Homo sapiens: one gene and its partner. The protein of the gene in region 1 interacts with the protein of each later gene in a pairwise test. Each region holds a gene or a part of one and is shown on either strand. Other genes may lie near its edges.

Evidence for each region.
Region 2: the proteins of CA8 (region 1) and INTS7 interact in binary tests that used the Homo sapiens proteins (3 or more experiments, as listed by UniProt).

The regions. Positions count from the first base shown.
Region 1 is NC_000008.11:60,269,657-60,282,112, forward strand, and holds the start of CA8 (carbonic anhydrase-related protein), read right to left. Parts: upstream 11,745-12,456; 5' UTR 11,492-11,744; coding exon 11,392-11,491; intron 10,225-11,391; coding exon 10,033-10,224; intron 1-10,032. UniProt on the Homo sapiens protein: Does not have a carbonic anhydrase catalytic activity.
Region 2 is NC_000001.11:212,023,270-212,035,725, reverse strand, and holds the start of INTS7 (integrator complex subunit 7), read left to right. Parts: upstream 1-168; 5' UTR 169-288; coding exon 289-382; intron 383-10,043; exon of another isoform or gene 10,044-10,165; intron 10,166-12,456. UniProt on the Homo sapiens protein: Component of the integrator complex, a multiprotein complex that terminates RNA polymerase II (Pol II) transcription in the promoter-proximal region of genes.

The DNA of each region.
Region 1 (12,456 bases):
CAAAGGCTAGTGCTCAAGCCTTATTCCTTTTCATTTGACTTCAAAGCTAAGTTTTGAGATCAACTCGACACCTGGCCCTGTGCTGGCCACTGAGTGTATAAAGCGAGGAAGATCCAGCCTTGGTGTTGACTGGGCAGTCTCAGTGGTTAAAAAAGTAAACTGAATAGTCTAAATAGAACACATCAAGAGCAGGAAAGGGTAGCAGGAGGGCATCCAGCAACGGACAAGCCAATAACAAGCATGAATCATAAAGTCAGGTAAGATGTTCCCCAGAAGATACCAACTCAGCTGAGTCTTGAATAAGCTGAGAGGTGAAAAGTGCATGGAGAGTAGAGCGAAGAGCCTGAGAAATATTCTGAGACATGAAGCAGCTTAAGAGTGTTCTAGGAGAATAAAATCAAAAGTTAGCTACAGTCAAGGTGGGCATGAGGAGGAGACATGCAGCCTATGCTTACGAGCTGGGATTTCTCCTGTCCAGAACCATTGAGGGCTTTTAATCAGGGGACTAACATGATCATATCTGCAATTTAAAGTATTATTCGTGCAGTATCTGCACAGATGACAGAATAACAAAGGGTAAGCCTAACCAGTAAGAAAGCTGCTATCATGCCCAGTTACAGATGGTGAGGCCAGGAGATGAAGCCTGCAGAGCCACACCGTCAACACAGAGGAAACCCCACACCAGTGGGTCCCTGGTACACCACCCGAAGGATCCAAAGGATTCATTCTTATTTTATTTACTTACTTACCTACTTATTTATTTATATACGTCTTTTTGAGATGGAGTCTTGCTCTGTCATCCAGGCTGGAGTGCAGTGGTGTGATCTCGGCTCACTGCAACCTCCGCCTCCCAGGTTCAAGAGATTCTCCTGCCTCAGTCTCCCTAGTAGCAGAGATTATAGGTGTGCACCACCATGCCTGGCTAATTTTTGTATTTTTACTAGAGACGGGGTTTCACCATGTTGGCCAGACTGGTCTTCAACTCCTGACCTCAAGTGAGCCACCTGCCTTGGCCTCCCAAAGTGCGTAGATTACAGGCATGAGCCACCATGCCCAGCTCCAAAGGGTTCATTCTTAATGGATTTAAAGACTTTATAACCTCAAAGTAACTTTTAAGAAATTCCAATGTTATCTCTAAAACTTCCCCAAAATAGTATCATTTAGTTCTTTTTTTAACATTTGAGGCCTTAAAAGCAAAAATTTTTCAATATTTTTAAACTGTCTTTGGCTTTTAACCTATGGCTTTATTAAATATCTTCAGCTCTTAAGGGTAGAGATCATAACAATAGCACAGAGAGCAGGCCGGGCAAAGTGAAGCACATGCAAAATGATGCAGATGACAGGAACTAACCAGGTAATTCAAATGCACCAAAATTAGCCAATAATAAATACAGTCATTAATCCAGCCAGGTACAGTGGCTCACACCTGTAATCCCGGTTCTAAGGGAAGCCAAGGCGGGAGGATCATTTGAGCCCAGGATTTCATGACCAGCCTGGGTAACATAGCAAGACCCCTGTCTCTACCAAAAATTTAAAAATTAGCTGGGCATGGTGGCAGGCCTGTAGTCCCAGCTACCAGACAGGCTGAGGTGGGCAGATTGCTTGAGCCCAGGACTTGGAGGCTGCAGTGAGCTATGACTGTACTCCAGCGTGGCCAACAGAATGAGAGCCTGAAAAAAAAAAGAAAGAAGAGAGACAGAGAGAGAGAAAAGAAAGAAGGAAAAAGAAGTTCAGCCCTGACATTTCATATAAATAAAAAAGATAGAGCCTCTTCTTCAGTGAAAATAATTTTTAAGATATTTTTGACAATTTCATCTTTAAATCAGCAAGGTTGCCAAGAAACACTGTTAAAAAGTTGCCATGTTTGGGGGGGAAAAGTAGGATTAATAATCATCATCATCTATCCTAAAATTAGTATTGAGAATTACAAGAGACCCAGAAATAAAATATCCTAATTAAAGTTTCTATAATAAGAAACAGTGAAGGGCACAAATGACCTATCTTGATTGGCAATTTCTCCCATAATGATGGTTGATTAAAAATGTCATTACCCTTAAGACATTGCTTGTAGTCAGCTGGAGTGACACTACTGCACAAGTGTGGGCAGTCTCACACATTTTCTCACTACTTAAGTATCAAGCCACTCAGGCTAGAAATCTGTAATTATTTTTTATGCTTACAATCCTCTTTATACCACTGCAAAGATGTTTAATTTTAATTTGCCTGTGTACCTTAAATGTCAAGATTCCTGAGAGACAGTGACCCACTTGTCCTGCTGAGAAGCTAAATGATACATGTGGCAGCCTTAATAAAATTCTCCATGCTCTAGGAGATAATAGGACCAATAGTCTGGTCAGATCACCCTGGAATGTGATGCTTGCTTCAACTCCATGTTAGGAGGGAGGGACTCTGCTACCTTGAAATTTGCCCAGAGCAGAGGTAGAATAGTGACAGGATCTGAAACCGGGGGCTCCATCCAAGCCATCTCTCTCCACTGATCTCCTCCACATCCCTGCTCCACATAACTGACCCATGACATTCTGTAGATTGCATCGCAGAGATCACTCCTGTGTCTTCCCCTCCTTTTCCACTGACACTGCAATGCCTGTGGTTTTGGTTGAGTCTTTTGTACTAACCTTCAAACTGGCTCACACTCTCTCCCAGATCCCATCTCATTCAGTGCTGCCAGCTTGATTTTCTTAAAGCAATGTTCTAATTATGACTTTATCCTACAAAAAAAAAAAAGAAAGGTTCTACTCTTTAGCCTCTGTGCAGAGTCCCTCATGAATTTGCTCCATAATACCCTCTCTATTCTATTTCCTGTTAACCCCCTTTATCATGAACAAATCTCTTCCAGACATACTGAAGGATTGGCCTTTCCTCATACAACCTCTAGAACTTTCCATATCTTATCCTTTGTGCAAGCTGTCCCTTCTTCCCACACACCTCAGGCTCCCCATATCCAAATGCTATTCATCCATCAAGGATTATTTCAAATGCTCTTTCCTCCACAAATCCTTCCCTAAGAATTTCCACCAAAAATAATCTCTCCCTGTATAGCTATAATATATTCCATGACCTACCATTGTATCCTCCTTGAGGGCAGGCTTTGGATCTGATTTATACTTACCTTATCCAAAGCATGTAACTGTTTGCAAAAGATGAAACAAAGATTGCCAACCTCACCCTGCAGGCCAGAGGAAACCAATGAACACGTATGTTTAGTTCACAGGTGCACATCTCCAGTTTCTCCTGACACATTAAACATCTGGCAAAGTAGGCCTGCTCTCTGCAGCTTGCCAGTTCCTGCAGTCCCCACCAGCCCCTACTGTCTTGTCTATTGACACTGCAGATGAAGCAGAGGATCAGTAGCTATTTACAATCTCTTGCTCTCCTGGTTGCTCTCATGTATAGTATTATATCTGCCTGGGTCTAAAAGACAAGTGAGTCTATAATTCCCATAGTAAATTATCAATAAGTAAGTATTGAAGGATGAAAGGCTGTCATGTGAGCAACAGCTGAAAGAACTAAGAATGTCTGAAAAGAAAAATGGCAACTGCATGTTATGACTGCAGTATTTGAAAGTGGAAGTATAATTATATTTGTTCTAAATATGTCCAGAGACTTAAAGAGAGACAATGGCGGAGATCATAGAACTTTTTGACTTTTGGAATTGCTCAAAAGCAAAATGGGTTTTCTTGTGAGAAATGGATTTCCTTCCCTGAGCTATTCAAGCTGCCCACCCACCTGCCAGGGGTCTGAGATGGGAGGCTACACTGGCCCATGCCACTCAGAGAGCCTATCACTGTGGCTCCTTTTCTAAGCTCCTTTGCTCTCTTATGGGGAAAAAGAAGACGAACAAAGTAGCACACAGTCTATGCAGATGCACTGCTCATGGGGTACATGCAGGAGAAGAGGGTTCAGAAGGAAACCTTAAGAAACCCTGTTATTTAAGCACAGTGGAAGATGAAGCACCAGCAGAGAAAAGGCAGTCAAAATTAGGAAGAAGTGTCAGGGAACTGTGTGGCCCAGAGACTAACAGGAGAGAAAACTTCCAAAAATTCCATTTCCAGTGCAGCAGAGTTAAAGTCCTGTAAGAATATAAAAATGCCCATTGGATTTAGGGGATGATGAGTTCATCAGTGACCTTGGCTTGAGAAGTTCCAGCAGAGAGGGATGGGGGCAGGGGCTCATGCCCCTGAAAACCCTCAAATTTATATTAAGGCAGTAACTCCAGATGGGATTATATATACAGGAACAATATCATTACAATTATGTTAGAAGTTTTAGTTTGATAAGTTTAAGCATTTAAATTATACTACAACTGTTCTAAACCTTTTTGGCAATTATTTATGATTTGTTAATATAAACTAAGCAAAAATAAAGAATAAAACAAAATAACTGAGGCCAAAGACAGCCTCAGGGAGGGCTGAGGTTTTAGCACAGTGGTGGTGTGAAGTCAGCTTTAATTTCTAAAAAGAACTGTGCTTCTTGTGTGGATTTTTTTTTTAATTTAAGAAGACAGCCCACTGTATTTGCAGGGGGTACCTCCAGTTAGACAAGGAAGATTGTACTCAAAACATTTATCTGCCCTCCCTCCTCAATTCTCACTAAATGAAGAGGGCACAACTTGCCAGAGCAACATGAACAAGACTGGAGAACAAGAGCAAAAGAGAAATGCCCAAAATAATGGGCGGCGGTAGGGGGGTGGTGCTGGAAAGCAGACAAAGGTAGTGAGTGATTCAGCAAAAAGAGAAAGCTAAAAGCTAAGTAACTACAGGAAGAAGGCCACAAGAGGCAGGTAATTCCTACCGCAGAACCCAGATGCTATGGTTTGAATGCCTGCATCCCCCTCCAAAATCCATGTTGAAACTGAATCCCCAATGCAACAGTATAAGATGTCCAGGAGGTGATCAGGTAAATCGGATGAGGGCTCTGCTCTAAGAATGGGATGAGGCTCTTATAAAAGGGCTCCAGGGAGCCTGTTTGACCCTTCTGCCTCATACCATGTGAGGACGTAGCACCGAAGCACCATGTACAGAGCAGAGGAAGAGCCCTCACCAGACACCAAATCTGTCAGCAGCTTGATATTGGACTTCCGAGTCTCCAGAACTAGGACAAATAAATTTCTATTATTTATAAATTACCTACTCCACAGTATTTTATTATAGTAGCCAAACAGACTAAGACACGAGAAAAGACTCAGGAGGTGGAAGCATTAGAGATACTTCTGAATGTGGCAGTGCAAAGTAGGAAACTGAAAACAGAAAAACAGATTTAAAGTTTTTAAAAGGAGCAGTTAAACCTCATCATGCATGGTCAGGCATGATGATGAGATCCCTGGCAGAAGATGAAGGAAATGTGGACTTGCTAAATGGTAATAGTCTCCTGTCTGTGCCAACAACCAGAAAGCTGGTGGCCAACTTGAGCCATCCCCAACCCCAAAACAAAAACACAAACAGGAAACAAGCATATTCCAGATAAACCAATATAAGCAACAAAGACTCCTCCAACAACATGGCCAGGTCCTTTCTTGATCATGGTACTGTGAAGCCCAACAGCCCTCAATCCCTGCCCAGGTGCACAGAGCTTCTGATCTGCTTCCTAGACTCATTCTTAAATAGGAACGAAGAGCCAAAGATCACTGGACTTTTGAGGAGAACCTCCGAAATAAAAGAGGGATGCCAATATAAATAGAAAAAGAAACCCAGAGTAAACAGAGACAGGTAGGGATAGAAAAGAAGCAATATAGAAAAGAATGAAGAAAGATCATACATTCATGAAATAAATACTGGATGTTGTATTTTTTTTAAAAAAAAAGGTTTTTAATTGCAGCGTAAGTTCAATGTTTTAGAAATTAAAAACAAGAAAGCAGAAAGTAAGAGTTCAATCAAAAGACTAAACGATTAAAAATTGAGGAAATCTACTAGAAAGTAGAAGAGAAAGGGAAGAAGAAAGTGGGAGTTACCAAAAGAGGAGGAAAAAATAAAAATACAAAATTTATCAATGAAATAATATAAGAAATATAAGAAAATTGCTGGTAAATAAAAGACACAATTATCTTGACTGGAAAAACCTACCAAGTGCCCAGCATATAGTGCAGAAACAATCCCACCAAGGCATATGGTTGTAACATTTCAAAACAACAGTAGTAAAGAAAACACTGTAAAAGGTTCCAGAAAGGAAAAAAGAGAAGAGACACATAGAGGGGGTTGAGAAGCAGAACGGCGCTAGATCTTTCAACTGCAACGCTGGAAGCTTCAAGCAATGTAATCATGATGTCAAACATCAAACGAAGTCAAGAATACTTCCAACCCAGACTGCCGCTCCAGGCTAACTCCAATCAAGTGTGAAGTATAATAAAGACACTTACAGACACATAGGCATCCAAGCATGTAGCCCTCACTTGCCCCTTTTCTCAGGAAGTTCCTGGAAGATGAACTGTACAAGCAAATAAACCAAGAAATTCCCTGAGATGACGGAGCAACTCAAAAAAGAGGATGGCACGGCATCCAGAAAACATTCGATCTAACACAGGAGACAAACGAGGGGACTTCCACGGCATCCAGGAAACATCCGATCTAACACAGGAGACAAACAAGGGGACTTCCCAGGCTTGAGGTCCAAGGAGCTGCGAGAAGAGGCTGTTAGGAGAGGCCTGGAGAGCAGAAAAGAAAAGCAGCCTCCACAGGAAAAAGAAAGGACAAGGAGGAGCGAGGGAGGGAAGACAACCTGATGCACGCTAATGTCCTAAGAGAAGATCCGTCATATGTTAGAGAGTTTGCAAATTAATTACCGACAGATAAAAAATTCAATTAACAAAAATGCATTAACTCCAGGAAAATACAAAACACTGTTTAAGTGAGACAAAATATAATCTCAGCTGGAAACAACAGTTGCAGTTGTAATAATAAAAATAATGAGTATTAATTTAAATAAAAATTAATTTAAGTAGACTCCAGGGGAATGAGGCATGAGAAATTACATAATGGATACAATGTACACTATTTGGGTGACAGTTACACTAAAAGCCCGGACTCCACCACTATGCAATATATCCAAGAAACAAAACCGCACTTGTACCCCCTAAATGTATACAGATTTTTAAAATTAATTTAAGTATACAGCGATAATACGAGAGTGAAATCATAAGAAAGAGGGCAATAAGAAAACTGGCCTCGTCCAGGTGCTGTGGCTCATACCTGTAATCCCAGCACTTTGGGAGGCCGAGGTGGGCGGATCACCTGAGGTCAGGAGTTTGAGACCAGCCTGACCAACATGGTGAAACCTCGTCTCTACTAAAAATACAAAAATTAGCTTGGTGTGGTGGCGGGCGCCTGTAATCCCAGCTACTTGGGGAGGCTGAGGCAAGAGAATCACTTGAACCTGGGAGGTGGAGATTGCAGTGAGTCAAGACGCACCATTGCACTCCAGCCTAGGCGACAGAGCGAGACTCTGTCTCAAAAGAAAAAAAAAAAAAGGAAAGAAAATTGGCCTCGTCTTCAATAGTAGAGAGTTCATACATAGCTTACTACCAAAGCATAACAGCATTATTATATTCTTACATTCTTGGAGGTAACCACAGGAGAAACAGCTAGAAAGTTTCAAAGTAGTTGTTACTAGGGAACAGCAGCCGTAGGTGGGGAAGAGCAGGGGATAACCACAGGCAGAAAGAACCACAGGCAGAAAGAGTATTATTCACCTTTTTTTTTTTGAGACGGAGTTTTGCTTTTGTCGCCCAGGCTGGAGAGCAATGGCGCAATCTCGGCTCACTGCAACCTCCGCCTCCCAGGTTCAAGTGATTCTCCTGCCTCAACGCCCCAAGTAGCTGGGATTACAGGCGTGTGCCACCATGCCCAGCTAATTTTTGGATTTTTTAGTAGAGATGGGGTTTCACCATGTTGGTCAGGCTGGTGTCGAACTCCTGACCTCCACTGATCCACCCACCTCAGCCTCCCAAAGTGCTGGGATTACACTTGTGAGCCATCACACCCAGCCTATTCAACTATTTTGTATATATTCTATTTTGATAAAGATAAAACATTATTTAAATAAGCGAATGACAGGGTATATAGAGCTTACAAATGGTTCCTCTGAGGAGCTTAAATATCCTAGGGGAAAAAACAACTACTCAAGACATGGTTATTTTGGTTACTTTTCTTGAGTTTGCAGAAATATTGGAAGGGAAAGAACAATAAGGAGGAAATTATTACCATGACAGAGAGGATAAGGGGAATCTGAAGGAGGAAGGTCTCCAGGGAGGCAGGAAAAAAGGGTTCTGGATCATGAGTATCCAAATCAGGCCTAGACAGAAGTGCAGACACTTCTTCTTCAGTGGGCAGGGGTGGAAGAAGGAGGAAGAGAAAAGCACAAAATGCTAGGTGAGGAAGAAACACACTTCATGGTGAGAGGGCCCAGATGTTGGTCCATAGTCTCTGTTTTAGAGTGAGGCAGAAGATTAAAGAAAATTGTGTTTGAGAAGGTAGCAGAAGAAAATGGTAAGTTCAAATTGATGAAGTAAATTTTATCTCAGAGCAGGACTAGGCACACACAGATGCAGTGGAGTATATGTGCTTAGTCATTGCTCTCTGCTCCCACAACCCTTTGTAACACTTGCCACATCAAGTGTACACTAGTACTTTAAAGAACTGGCTTTTCACTAGGCTATGAATCCTCAAGAACTGTCTTATAAATTTATATGCAACCAATATTGATCATGGCACCTGACATGAAATGTATTTTTGTTTTGTGGATATATAAACATTTATTTCCGGAAGTTCAAAGCATCTCAACACATCAACACACATGTACTTCTTTAAATTGCTTTTTATATGCCAGAACAGTCAGCATTCAATAATTTTACAATATCCTTTAAAAAACAGTAAGTAATGTCCCATCAAAGCTAAACCCACACCCCCAAAAAAATTCAAGTCGAAATTTCCATCTTAAACTGACTCTGACTAAGTACATATAAAGCCCAGTAACTCTTTTGGGCAATGCTCACATGCTGACTAAACTCAGAACAGCGAAGGAGACTACATGAATCTATGACTATCTCATGGATTCTAAATTAAAGCTTAGAAACATTTACAATGAATAAAATAAATCCATAGCTGGAAATCAACAGCTGCCTTGATTAATAACAAACCTAAAGATTTTATAGTTTGAGGTATCAACTTTATCAACTTGGAATTAATTTTCGAGCACAGTCTCTATTTATCAAGTACGTCCTAATATTTCAACATACTTTAATTTTTCCCAAAAGAAAAAGACAGTTATTATTCACTATGAAATGCATGCTATTAATGCTACATTTTTTAAAAATCTGATTTCCTCTTTCCTACGATAAAGCCAAAAACTGATTTCCTTGGTAATTACCTAACAACTTTTGCACAGAACATTTCAGATCCATCTCAAATAGGTTTGCAAGTGGTAGGAGAAGTTTCATGGGATGGAACTTAAATAAATAAATAAATAAATAAATAAAAGGAAGAGGTTTGTTTACCATTTAAATCTCTGGCTGAGTTTAGAGGCTGTTTCTTATTGTTATTAGTTAAAATTATTTTTGGCAAACTAATACAGTAGAGAAAATTAACCTGAGAAGTCTACCTTGAATGCCACGTTATGTCAATAAATTCTAATCTTTGGTTTCACAAAGTAGCAAAACAGAGAATTATGATTATCTAAGTGATTTAAGCTAATCAACAATTTTGGACAAAACGCAGATTACTGCACCTGCATGTACCTGTCCTCATATTTCACAAGGTATAAGGTGATCAAACTAAGGTTTTTCCAGTAACATCATAAGAAGCAGAACAACCGACTGATAATCTTCATAATTTCACTCTTTTGTCCTTTCAAAATTGTTTCAGAAGGTAATTCCCAAAAATGCTTTATATTATAATACAAAGGTATCCTGAAAATAGAGATACGTCAGTTGTACTTTTTAAATTGTGCAAGTTAAATCACAGTTCAATAACTCTACGCTGACTTCTAGTTTAAAAGACCACACAAACATATTTTCTAAAATACCTGATTTTGACTTCAGGATAACCTGAATGGTATGTCCATCATTGGTGACTTCACAGTCTCGGCACACCACATAATTTGGGGAGAGGCGGACATCCAACAGCGAGGGGTCATACCTAGCCTCTCTTGAGTTTAGGTTAATAGGAGACTGGTATTCCCCATTAGCATCAGGAAACACCAGACCCCACTCAACACCTAAGAACAAAATGAAATAAATTAAAAACAGGTTAAAAAATAAATTACAGTAAAATTTAACATGTAAAAACTAAACACTTAGAACCCTTGATATCATGAAGAGAGTAATGATACCATCACTATACAGATGAAATATGGTAATTCTATTTGTTTTTGCATTCATTATTTGAATGATCTGTTATTATCAAATACCATACACAAAATCCCGGACTAGCAAAATATTCTATTTGTATTTGTCAACAAAGACATAATAATTTATGATTCTAGGAAATTTGGGTCATTTTTAAGTGATTAGGAAAAAAGAATACCAGAACAATTTCTTCTGCTTATTAGTTCAATTACGTTCAGTACCTGGGAAACAGCTGTAACTTTCAACATACTTAGTGACAGTCAGAACCCTAACTCTCATGCTAGTAAATAGACGCCCCTTATCAGAAATGCAAGTGTAGTATTTTAAAGTGTGCATATGTATATATCTGTGTACATACATATTCCCATAGTCTTTCCAAATTTTTTATAATTAAAATTATATATTCTATATTGGTTTCAACATATGTAGTAAACATCAGCACTACTGGTTGGCTCTAATAGGAGCCCTAGGTCTTTAGGAATAAATCTAGGAAACTCGAGTTTTTCAGAAAGTCAACCGCTTCTCGCCAAACCCAATGATTCAGTCTGAAATTTAGGACATGTTTTAGAAAGACTTGAGCATTGCTAGCAGGCTTCACGAAAAGACCAGAGGCAGAAACACTTTCTCCCCAAAGTCTCCAAGCCAAAAACGAATTCTTCACGCTAACACTGTCTTCCTCAGGTGTTTAGTAAAATGTACCGCTGCTCTTCTTGACTACTCAGAAGACATAAAAGGTACAGCCACGGCTTGGAGGCTAGCCCGCCCTCCGGACCGCAGCAGGTGCGAACGCCAGCCCTGCGGAAGGCTCCCGGGTGAGAGCGCAGGCGGCGGAAGAGCGCAGGCGGCGAGCACGCCTCCCTGGAGCGCCTCCCGCCCGAAACGCACCAGGGGAGTGGGAAAGTGGCAGAGACCCCCGTGGGAAAGAGGGGGCGTGGGGGTGCTCGGAGCGCGCAGCGGCAGCAGGACTCGAGTCCCGCGCTCGGCGAGACACTGACGCCGCCGCGGGACCCCGGACACCCCGACTCGCGGCCACTTACCTTCCTCGTAGCCCCACTCCACACCCTCCTCTTCTTCCTCCTCATCCTCTTCCTTCTCGGGGAAGGCGACGGTATCTTCGATGAAGCTCAGGTCCGCCATGGGAAGGCCGCGGGGCCCCTCGGCGCTCTCGGCAGCAGTGCCTGCGCCTTCGCTGGGCGCGGGGCTGGAGCCGGAGCGGAGCGCGCGTGGGGGAGTGTGAGCACGCGTGAGCGGCAGTGTGAGTGCGAGAGCGCCTCCGGGTGTGAACCGCAGTGTGAGTGCAAGCAGGCGTGCGTTCGGACCGAGTGTTCCAGAGACCCGCGTGGGAAGCGCGTCCGGAGGCCCCAGCAGAGCGAGGGAGCGGCTGTGGCCTGGGGAGCGAGCGCCTGGCGAATTTTATACCCGACCGGGGCGTGTCTGGTACGCGAGGATCCGCCCCCTTCTCTCTCTGGCCGTTGGGGCCAGGGGAGCCGACAGTTAGAATGCGCCTCGGGGCGACTAGTCCCAAGTCACGGAAACCTCGGCGCATCCCCGCCCGCCCTTCCCCCGGGGTCGCCCCCGCCGCCTCCTGGCGCTTCCTCGCTGCGGCGACTCCTGCTTGGCCGCCCGAGCCTTCCTTCCAGAAGCCCGCAAGTCTCCCAAGGTCACTCGGGACCCCTGTGTGCCTGGCCTAGCCCAGAGGCTGCTCACCTATTCATTTTCATCCGTACTCCAGGAAATACCAAAAAGAAGGGGTCCTGGAGGAGAGAGATGGGCTGCCGTGGGTAGGAGAAAGGAGAGGGCTAGGAGACCCCGTAACACAATAAAAAGAGACTCTCCAGCGGAATCTTCTTAGTATCTTCTGAGTATTTACTTTTTAAATCGTCCGTTCAGCGCAGTGGAAACGAGTTTGGAAATTTTTCCAAGAAAGTTCTATTAATTCCTAAAAACGTTTAAGAAAAGAAAATGGTTGTTATCTAGAGAAGTAGCTATGATTTAGGGTTGTGTTTTTTTTTTTTTTTTTTCCAGAAAAGGGTATTGTTTCAAAGCAGGGCTAGCAGAAGGCAGTAGACAGAGGGTGTTCGCTGTCAGAGTCTGGGGCGCTG
Region 2 (12,456 bases), on another chromosome or scaffold:
TCTGATTGGCTTCCGAGCGACGTCCGGGCGCCTCAGAGTCATTTCCCCCTTCGGATCCCCGCCTCCTTTTCTCCCAGCCGCGGGAACCTGGAGTCCAAGAGCTCCTTGAGCGCCTGCGCAGGGGGTAGCAGAGGCGCGGACAAACCGCGGGGTGACCAGGGCGCATGCGTAACAGGGCTTGACAGCGCGCGGAAGAAAAACCAGCAAGAAGGCGGCGGGGGAAGATGGCGGTCCTGGGGTAGAGTTTGCAAGCTTTCTGACTAGGCTAGTCGAGTAACTATTCGGGTCATGGCGTCAAACTCAACTAAGTCTTTCCTGGCAGATGCCGGCTATGGCGAACAGGAACTGGATGCCAACTCTGCCCTTATGGAATTGGACAAAGGTATTCGAAAGAGAGGGCTGAATGGGTGAAACAGGCGTGGGGGGAAGTGGCGCCACCAGGTGGTGGTTGCTTTGGGAGAAGACGGATAGGCGCATGCGCATGTCTTCGCTGGGCGGGGAGCGCCTGTGCTTTTGCTGGGGCGTGGGCTTTGACCCCTTCGGGAGGTTGCGGGAAATTTGCAGGATTGTGTGACTGGCCTTATACCGGCTAAACAAGTAGCGAGCTCTAGTGAGAGGCCCGTTTTGACCACTTGAGGGAGCAGTCCCCCGATTTTCTAAGCAGTGACAGTGGCTAGTTTCTAAGAGACACTGCAAAGAAATTGTGAAATTGGTTTTCAGTCTGTTCAGTTGAGACCAGGTCTTCATGAAATGTGCTGAATAGTAATCTTGCACCGACTTGACAGCGATTCATTTGATTTCCATAGCTCTGTTACCTGCGGGTTACAAGGCAGGCTAAACCTGGCCAAGACCATAAAAAAGCAAGGGCCCTGCTCATTCTCTGCGGACAAGTTCCAGGAGTTCTGTTGCCGTACAGGGAGCAGCTTGGTGTAGAGGGAGCTTTGGGGTTACACTGAGTTAAGTTTCAATGCCGCTGATTTTATGATTAACTTCATCTAGCCTCGGCTTGTCGTCTGCAAAGTGGGTACAGTACCATTGAGCCGGCAGAATTGTATTAAGTGACTTAATGGTATGCAAAAGAAGCATTTAGTAAATGCTGAAGAGATATACCTCCCTTCTTAGATGTGGATATGGGAGGCAAGGTCGGAAATTTGTTAGTAAAGAACTCGACTAGTAATATGAAACCTTTATTTCATATTGAGGATTTTTATTGTACGGGAAACATTTCGGCAGCTGGTATACAATTAAATCTTGATTAATCGTAGCCAATATATAATGTTGGAGAACTGGACTAGAACTCAGAAGGGTTTGAGCCACTTCCCAGTTTTCTGAGTTGGACATGTCTATTAACTTTTTTGGGACTCTTTTTCTGTTTATTTTTTAAACTGTGAATATTTTTAGTGGGTTAGTCTAAATAAGAGTTTCTCAGGCTCTTAAAAAAGCTTTTACCTTATTTTGATAAACACAAAAATTTCACAGCCCCCTAATGGGATATTCCTTTGGTTGAGTCTCAGTATCTTTAGTGCACCCCCATCAACCAAGAAAATTATGTTGAACTTTTCCTTCTCTTACCAAATCTTTAGGGGTTTTCTCCTCTGAAAAAAAAAAGTATAATACTAAATGTGTTTTTCTCTTTTTTTTTGGAGACAGAGTGTTGCTCTGTTGCCCAGGCTAGAGTGCAGTGGCGCCATCTCGGCTCACTGCAACCTCCGCCTCCCGAGTTCAAACGGTTCTCCTGCCTCAGCCTCCCGAGTAGCTGGAATTACAGGCGCCCGCCACCACGCCCGGCTAATTTTTGTATTTTTAGTATAGACGGGGTTTCACCATGTTGGCCAGGCTGGTCTCCAACTCCTGACCTCAGGTGATCCGTCCGCCTCGGCCTTCCAAAGTGCTGGGATTTACAGGCATGAGCCACCGCGCCCGGCCTTAAATGTGTTTTTCAAACACTTTCCTCCTCATTCTGATACATTTCTTTCTTATTCCTCAGTGAAAGTTACAGGTCAGGATAATATCTAATATCCCTACGAGTTCTAAGGACATTTTCTACCATTCTGGTGCAGCTGAGCTTGTCTCATGCTGACAATAGGATAGTGGTTGTGGAACAGGGATAAAGATGGGGCACTGAAGAGGAGTCTAGAATGGTTTAATTCCTCAAATTTTGCAGTTGTAAGAAAAAAACCACAATTTTTCCTTTTTAAAGAAGAGTTGAAATGAAAATATTTTATATCTATAGGAAAGAAATCAGGTGTCAATCTTAGACACAGAGTAAGTGATCATTTGCACTCCTCCCAGCAATGCCTGGCGTGAGTGTTTTACAGGTGAATCTCAGGCTCAGAAAGATGACTTGTTCTTTTTCATCTCATCTGTAGTAACTTTTAAAGCTGTTAGGAAATTAAGTTATAGAAATAGCCAGTTTCGTGTAGAATATAGTTGAGTATTTTAAATATTGAGTCATTTCATCTTGTACCTGTTAAAGTATTTCTGTTTTGTGAGCTAAAGGTCAGAAGGCTACAAGTTCCAACTCTTTTTTTCGTTCCCAAACTCCAAGGAATACTGTTTCTGAAATATCTCCCCCACCTCAGCATACACACTCAGACACATGACTTATTTGATCGGGCTTTGTACTAGGAACATGGCAGTTAATGAGACAAAACTCCTGCCCCTATAGAGCTTACATTCTAGACAGCAGATGCAGACACTCCGCAAATATAGCAAACGTGACAGTTAGTGATACATATTATAAAGGAAAATGAAGCAATGAAAGGGACTGGAGAAAACTGATCTGGGGCTGGAGTTGATTTCTTATTTTATGAAGTATAGGCAAGAAAGACCTCCTCAATCAAGTGGAAGAACAGCAAGTACAAAGGCCCTGAGGTAGAAGCCTCCTTTGCATGCAGTTATCTGGAGCAAAGTAATAGGCAATGAGTATAGAAAGATAACCAGAGTCAGTCGGGCGTGGTGGTTCACGCCTGTAATCCCCGCACTTTGGGAAGCTGAGGCGGGCGGATCACGAAGTCAGGAGATCGAGACCATCCTGGCTAACATGGTGAAACCCTGTCTCTACTAAACAAAATACAAAAAATTAGCCAGGCGTGGTGGTGGGCACCTGTAGTTCCAGCTACTTGGGAGGCTGAGGCAGGAGAATGGCGTGAACCTGGGAGGCGGGGCTTCCAGTGAGCCGAGATCACACCACTGCACTCCAGTCTGGGCAACAGAGCAAGACTGTCTCGAAAAAAAAAAAAGAAAGATAACCAGAGTCCCGTTCAGGTAGGGCCGTGCAAGCCATCAAAAGGACTGGCTTTCATTCTGAGTGAGAAAGGAAACCATGGAGGATTTTCAGCAGGTGTGTGACATGATCTGACTTTCCTTTGAAAAGTATCAGTCTGGCTACTGTGCTGAGAATAGACTGAAGTGGGGAGGGTCAGGGACCCAAGTAGGGAGACCAATGAGAAGGCAACTATAACAATCCAGGGAAAAGAAAATAGTGGCTTAGACCGAGATGGTGACACTGAAAATGTGTGAAGTGCTGAGATTCTGGATATACTTTCAAAGTAGAGCCAAGAAGATTTGCTAATGGATTAGATGAGGATATAAGAGTAAGTGGTCAAGAAAACTTAGAGGTTTTTGGTATGAGCTACTGGGAGGATGTATGTATTGTTTACTGAAATCAAATCAGTTTGGGTCATGTTAAATTTGAGATGTCTCTTAGACATCCAAATGGAGATGATTAGTCAGTTAGGCATAAGATGTAACCTTTGAACGCTATTTTAAAGAAATATTTTGTGGCACTGGTGTCCTTAGAAACACACTCAGGAAATGCTGCCATTCATAACCTGTTATATATTTATAACTGTTGTACTTTATTCTGAGCCTTTTGAGCAAGCATTGGCAGTAAGCTGATTGTTTCTGATCTCTATAGGAATAAGTGAATACTATTTTGAAGCTGACTCAATTCCATTACTTTAGGATGTAGTTAGTAACAGGAAAATCATCCTTCATGTGATAGCCATTCATTTACTCAACAGATATTTACTGACCACCTGCATTGTCTCAGGCTCTATACTCAGACTAGGGGCTATGTTGGCAAACAAGACATCTTTAAGGAGATTGCATACAAATGTAAGGAGATGGACAATGCTAGATCAAATGTGGTGCCGTTAGTCAGGACAAGAAGTTGGATTTTGTGCAGAGTGCAATGGGAAGGCATTGAAAGTTGTAGGCTGATGGCCATGCTGCTTGAGCTTCTGTAAGACTGAGCATACACAAGCAGAGTTAAGTGTCATAATCAAATACATTACAGCTTATGTTTATCTGACACATTTCATGATATGATCATTACTATACATAATTGGCAATATAAAGGATGCATCTCACAAAAATTAGTGTAACTTTTTCACTAATATAATTTCTTAGTCTAAACATTTTTAGATCAGCTGATGGAAGGTTATCCTGATGATTTGGGAAAACTTATGCAAGATCTCCTTCCCCCTGGGAAAAGAGGAGTCTCTTAAATGATATTATTCAGCCTATCTGCCTTCTGCAATGTTGACCTTGGAAAGGATGAGATGAAAGCAATGGGGAAGAGAGCAGTGACTCATTCCCTTTCTTGCAGCTGATGCAATGGGAAGGGAGGAAATATAGAGGATAGATTTGTTACTAGAGGTGCTGGTGAATGTAATGCTGTGTGAAAAACCTTGATGGTGTGCTTAATGAAAAATTTAGTTATGAAATAGAGAAATGATGTGAATCAGGACAACTGTCTCTGCACTCTAATTTCCCCCTTAGACGGTGTCACCTCACCTGTATTCCAAAATACCTGAATTCTCAGACCATCAAGAAAGTTTGTCAAGAAAGACCACAGATTGCTTTTACATTATCGATATGGCTCAGATGTTGTTGGTGTTTCAGTAAACAAATATGAGGCCTTTGGGGAAGTATCTTCATAGGCCCTCCTCAAGAGAAAGGCCTCAGCAGCCAGATTTGTTCCAGGTGACTAATTCCATACCATAACTGATTGATTCAGAAGTAGGCATGTGACCCACACTGAGTCAAATTCTTTCTCCTGAGAATCTCTGCTGCCAGACCACACTTAGTCTGAGAGTGTTGAGAAGCGGACCTATAAAATCATATAGAATTAGGCCGGGCGCAGTGACTCACACCTGTCATCCCAGCACTTTGGGAGGCCGAGGCGGGCGGATCACCTGAGGTCAGGAGTTCGAGACCAGCCTGCCCAAGATGGTGAAATCCCATCTGTACTAAAAATACAAAAATTAGCCGGGGGTGGTAGCAGGCACCTGTAATCCCAGCTGCTCAGGAGGCTGAGACAGGAGAGTCACTTGAACCCAGGAGGCAGAGGTTGCAGTGAGCTGAGATCATGCCATTGCACTCCAGCCTGGGCGACAAGAATGAAACTCCATCTCAAAAAAAAAAAACAAAAAATCATGTAGAATTGAAGCTAAGGTGAGACTCTGGGCAACTTAATGCAACATAAAAACCAGCAGCCTGGTTGGTAATTCCTTGATGGGCTATGAACTAATCCAAAAATTCAAGTTTTTACTGAAACCCACAGACTCATTCTTATATATAACTAAGATTTACTGTCTTGGAATTTGCAAAGTGGGTTATTAAATATTCCTAGAAGTTGGTATCCATAAACTCAAATTTGTTTAGAATTCTAGATTAGTATTCTCATGTGCATACTGGATGATGTTGCATACATCTTGCCATGTACGTTTACAGACATTTTCTGAAATTTGGGGGATGGATGCTGCCTTATTAATGCATCATTAGTTTTCACTGTCATTTTACTTGTTTCTATTTCTGCTTTTTAAATATAAAAATGGGCTTTGCCATCAATTTTTTAAGCTGTGGGTTGTATGTTTGTGTTCATGTTTCTACCCATGTCCCCCCACACACCTTTTATTAATGTATAGATTTTAAGATATGTTCGTGTTATGGTTCAATTTTGAATCATCCTCATCTCTTAGCTAAAGCAAATGTATGTCACAAATTGTCCTAAATTGTGTTTGTTTGGTAATGCTTTATTTGTGGTGTTCTTTGTAGTGGATGTTAGTTATGTTGATGGTTGCTTAATATATTTTGAACACTCTTTTTATGCTTAAGGAATGTCCCATATCATGAACCTTGTCTTACTAAGGTAGAAGCAAAAACTTATTTCCTAGTTTCCCTTGCAAGAGTGCAGGATCTGACTTAGGCTCTGCCAGTCAGACACACCTCCTTCACACTGTCTGATTTAGAAGTTAGAGATGCAAGAAGGAAGAGTTGAAGTGTCCACTCACAGTTCTGCCATGGCAGCAGCAGTATTTCTAGCTTACAGCAGCAACAACAATGGCTACGATATTCCTAGATGACAGCAGAGCTAATTGTTGCATCTGGTGTTTCCTATCAAAGACAGGGTTCTTCCATCCAGTTGGTTGGGTAGTGTGGTATTAGGTGTTCCTAGAAATTTAGCCTTAAAATTGTTTCTTAAGCTTTTAATAAACTCATTTTCTGCCTCATAAGCCAGAGTTAGCTTCTGTTGCTTGCAGCTAAGAACTGCTGATAGATGCTACTTGGAGATTTGTGCTGTTTTGAAAACTTGATTAATGTGTATCCCAAACCCCAAGTTTACCATAATTTATGGTATTCCCCTAATTCCCTAGAATTCATCACCTCAGAATTCCACCATTTAATCACTAATTTAAATGTCTCATTCTTGAATCTTAATCTCTTTCTTTCTAGTTGCTTGCTAGAGATGCATTTTAGCATAGTGGTTAGCACTATAGCCTTTGGAGCTACATTGCCAGAATTTGAATCCCAGCTCTGTCATTTGTCAGCATTGTTGTTTCTTACGCAAATTGCTTAGCTTGTCTGTGCCTGTTTCCTCACCTTTCAAATGGGGAAAATAATGGTACCTAATTTATGTGATTTTTAGTGAGACTTTAATACATGCAAAGTGCTTAAAGTGACTGGCACAGAATAAGCACTTCATGTGTATCATCATTATCATTATGATTAACTGCTATTTTGGCTAGTCTTTATTTTCATTCAGACCTCGGTATTTCACCTCTCTACATTTCTGTACCTGTTTTACTTCTTTGTTCAGCTTAGATTTCATGGTCCTTCATTTTATTAACTGCATTTACTTTCTTACCAGTACTTTAAATTCACATCCAAGGTTCCATTCTACTCATGTATCCCCAAAGGCAGTCAAAAATTGCTGCAGAAAGTCATACAGTGGGGTACATGGCTATCATCATAAATGGGAGCCGAATCTACACTGACCTTCAACATGGACCTGCAGTACTGTAATGTTTCTGCAGTACTACTATGTTTCTTTGGTCAGACACTTCTACCTTCTTCAGTAAGATTTTAGATCTTTTACTTTTCTAAAACCAGAGATCCTGGGGTTTTATGTGAAGTATGATTTGTAAAACTTGACAGTGTGTTCGAAACCTTTAAAAACATTGTGCCAGATAAAAGCATTCTGAGGACCAAATTCAGCAGCCTAGTAGTTTTCTAACTCCAGTATAATCAGTGTGGGCAGGCTAGTTAAATAAGTTATCAAGTGGCAGAAGTTAACTTGAGAATCTAGGTGCTGGCTGGGCGCAGTGGCTCACGCCTGGAATCCTAGTACTTTGGGAGGCTGAGGCGGGAGGATCACCTGAGGTTGGGAGTTTGAGATTGGCCTGGCCAACATGGTGAAATCCTGTCTCTACTAAAAATATAAAACTTAGCCAGGTGTGATGGTGCACGCCTATAATCCCAGCTACTCGGCAGGCTGAGTCACAAGAATCACTTGAACCCGGGGGGCGGAGGTTGCAGTGAGCTGAGATTGCGCCACTGCACTCCAGCCTGGGCGGCAGAGTGAGACTGTCTCAAGAAAAAAAAAAGGAATCTCGATGCCAACCTTTTCAAAGTAGTTAAACAGATGCCTGGGACTCTGCCCCATATATTTAGTAGGTTTGGAGTAAAACCCATAGCATAGATATTTTTCAAAAACTTAGCAGATATTGCTGATGCAGAACCAAGCTGAAAACCACTAGCCTGGCAAAAAGCTCTGCACACTTTAAGTGCGAAATAATGTTAGAATAATGAATGCTTTACTACTGCCAAATGAATTTTGAATGAATAAATGATTTTACAGCCTATTTTAGTTTCCCTGGTCTACATGCATGTTGCAACTGAGTTAAGCACTGTTTAAGTCCAGGCACAGAAAAGGAAGAGAGATCTGTTTTTGTTTTTGTTTTTTTTTGGTGGAAGAATACAAAATAAAATGTAGGTATAGCAATCACATCCCTCCTTCTTAATCTTATCTCTGGGCTTACAGTAGTATTCTTATGATTAGTGGTCTTATGACCAGGGCATTCTTCCTGTAGCAAGCAATACAAATAAAATGTCTAGCCCCTCTTATACTAGAACTGGAACGTGCTGAGCTCCTGTTTTCCAGTGCTTACAAAATTGGCCTAGAGCAAGCAAGATGAGTACCATACTACCCCAACCCAGGGCTGTTGCTAAGTAATAGGCCTTTAAAGCACTTTTTCCTTCTTTTTCACCTTAGCTCCTGTCCTTCGGAGCCAGCCTGAATTCTCACTACCTCTTTCCTAAGGAGGGCTCTTACATCAGAAAATACAGAAGAGGTTTAATATTCTTTAGTTCATTTACCCCGTGGCGTTGTTACAGAGGAATGAGAGTCTATTTTATCTCAGAGAAAAAAGTTTGATGATATTAGATAAATCAAAACATTCTCTCGCTTCATTCAAAATAATCTTTGGTACATTTTAAATCAGCATGTTTAAACAAATCAATATGGTCTTTGGTTCTGTTTTTCAAGGGAAGATAAAACATGATTATATTCTGTCAAGGAGACTACCTGTACATAGGCTGTTTCCTACTATGCCTTTTTCATCTCAGCCAAGGTTAATTCATTACAAACAGAACTTTACCATCCTTTGTATCTAACTCAGCTACTGACAGTGAGAAGAAAATGAAACAATCCAATTACTGTGGATTTTTTCAACCCCTTTGCCAACACATATACGTAAGCACACATCTCTGTTCCTTCTCACCTCCATCCTCAGCTATGTCTTTCCCCTTCTCTGCCCTGTGTGTCCCTTGACCCGTTTTTCATATCAGGCTTTTAGAAAAGTAAGGCTACATGAGCCACACTGCCAGCTACTTAGAATTATCCCTTTTGGCGTTGTGTTTGATAGGAAAAGGATTTCTAGAGCTTCAGAGGCAGTTCTTTGTGTGTGTAAGAGGGTGAAGGGGAGGAGGGAGCAGATGAAGGAGGGATGTGTTCTATCTCAGTTAGAAATGTTAATTAATTTTCCCATAGAAACATTTATTATAAATGGTTATTAGGTTCCAGAGTACTGTGAGTGCCGATAGTGCTATTATTTTCCTATGAGGAAATAATGTTCTAAGTACTGAATAACTAACATGAGTGCATTACGGAACATCACCCATTAGTAAATGATAGAAATTACCTATGCAGTTTTACTTTGTGGTTGTCTTTTGTATGAAACATTGTGGCAACTAGGAAAAGCCTTCAGATTTCCTTTGTCTTTTTGTTTTTTTTGGAGACAGGGTCTCTGTCACCCAGGCTGGAGTGCAGTGGCGTGATATTGGCTCACTGCAACCTCCGCCTCCCGAGTTCAAGCAGTTCTCATGCCTCAGCCTCCCTAGTAGCTGTGATTACAGGTGCCTGCCATCACGCTGGGCTAATTTTTGTATTTAAACGGGGTTTTACCATGTTGCCCAGGCTGGTCTTGAACTCCTGGCCTCAGGTGATCTGCCAGCCTCGGCCTCCCAAAGTGCTGGGATTACAGGCATGAGCCACTGTGCCTGGCCTCCTTTGTTGTTTTTTTTAAGAATAATCAAAGGTTACTGGACAGAGATATTCTAAGATACTTATTCCTGTGAGGACATAATCAGCATTTTGTGACTGGTAAAATACTAAACAGAGACATTTGAAATTGATGCTGTTAAATCCTTACCAAGGTATTCATTCTTAGTGAATTTTTTTTTTTTTTTCCTGGTACAGCTGTGACTCCAGGCAGGATCCAGAGAGGAGTTTTCCAGTCTCTTCTCTGGGTTTTGTAGAGACTTACTTTATCCTTCTATGTTAGCTTCTTAAAGCACCACATCAACCTTAAAAGGGCATAAGAAAGGGCAAATTCTTAATGCATTTTTTAGAAAATTGAATATTAACTCTTTTTTCTTGGTTGGGTTTTTTTTTTAATTTTTTAAATATCAGATTTAGTGAGGTATAATTTGTATCAGATAAAATTCACCAAATGTATGCAGTCATGAAACCATGACCATAGTCAAGACATAGAATATTTCCTTTACCCCAAAAACTTTCCTCATGCCCCTGTGCAGTCAGTTCCCTCTCTCTAGCTCCTGGCTACCACCAATCTGTTTTTTATCCCTATAGTTTTGCCTCTTCCATAATGTCATATAAAATAGAATGATACAGTAAGTTAAGTGTAGTCCTTCAGGTCTGGCTTCTTTCACTCAGCATAATGATTTTGAGATCGTTTTATGTGGTTAAAATAAGGTATGATTTCACAAATCACGCAGTTTATTACCATACAGAAAGAATTTTCCCTGCCTTTTTCACAATGTTTAGAGAGGGAGAATAACAAGAACACATCTCACAGGGAACACGTTTGATAGACAAAGTCCAGAAACCACATGTGAGTGAATACTAGTTTCATTTAGAGTCAAATTAGTAAAGTCTAGTTGCGCATTTAGGATGGAAACAGGCCTCTGTGAATGTAGTCTAATTGAAGTTTGAGGTGTACCTTTCTATGAGATGTTCTCTGGAGAGATGATCAGACCAACAGTGGAGATCCATGATGACAACAAGATTTTCAATGCTAGGAGCCATGTCATCAGGGAGGGAGATTACACTCCATGTTCTTATCACAGCAGAAAATTTCACTCACAATAGCAGACTATGTGTTTGTAATCATTTCAAAGCTGCACAACAGAGATCCACCTTTGTTGTTGTATGCATCAGTAACTGGTTCCTTTTTTATTGCTGAGTAGTAGTTCATTGTATGGATATACCACAATTTGTTTATTCATCCACTAGTTGATTAACATATGTGTTTCCAGTTTGGGGCTATTAATGAATAAAGCTGCTGTGAATATTTGCATACAGATGTTTGTGTGGACATATGTTTTCATTTCATTTGGATAAATAGCTGAAAGTAGTATTGCTATGTATATAGTATGTTTACCTGCATTAAGAAAGACCAAACAAAAAATAAAATGCCTAGGAATACATCTAACCAAGGAGGTGAAAGATCTCTACAACGAGAACTACAAAACACTACCAAAAGGAATCTTAGGTGACACAAATGGAAAAACATTCCATGCTCATGGATTGGAAGAATCAATATCATTAAAATGGCCAAACTGCCCAAAGCAATCTACAGAGTGCTATTACTATCAAACTATCAACATCATTTTTCACAGAATTAGAAAAAAAAAACTCTTCTAAAATTCATATGGAACCAAAAAAGAGCGTAAATAGCCAAACCAATCCTAAGCAAACTAACAAAACTGAAGGCATCACATTACCCAATTTCAAACTATTTTGTAAGGCCACAGTAACCAAAACAGCATGGTACTGGTACACACACAGTCACATAGACAGCAGAATAGAGAACCCAGAGATAAAGCTGCACACCTGCAGCCATCTGATCTTCAACAAAGTCGATAAAAATAAGCAATGGGAAAAGGACTCCCTATGCAATAAATGGTACAGGGATAGCTGGCTAGCCCTATGCAGAAGAATGAAACTGGACCCCTACCTTTCACCATATACAAAAATTAAGGTGGATTAAATATTCAAATGTAAGACCTCAAACTCTAAGAATCCTAGAAGAAAATCAGCATTGGGAAAGAATTTGTGACTAAATCCTCAAAAGCAATTGCAACAAAACCAAAAATGGACAAGTGGGACCTAATTAAGCAGAAGAGCATCTGCACAGCAAAAGAAACTATCAACAGAGTAAACAGCCTACAGAATGGGAGAAAATATTTGCAAACTATGCATGTGACAAAGGTGTAATATCTAGAGTCTATAAGGAACTTAATTCAACAAGCAAAAACCAAATAACCCTATTAAAAAGTGGGCAAAGGACATGAAAAAGCATTCTCAAAAGAAGACATACAAGCAGTCAACAAACATGAAAAAAATGCTCAGCTTCAGTAATCATCAGAGAAATGTAAATTAAAACCATAGTAAGATACCATCTCACACCAGTCAAAATGGCTATTATTGAAAAGTCAAAAAATAACATGCTGTGAGGCTGTGAAGAAAAGGGAATGCTTATATATACACTGTTGGTGGGAATATAAATTAGTTCAGCCAGTGTAGAAAGCAGTTTGGAGATTTCTCAAAGAACTTAGAACTGCCATTCAACCCAGTAATCCCATTAC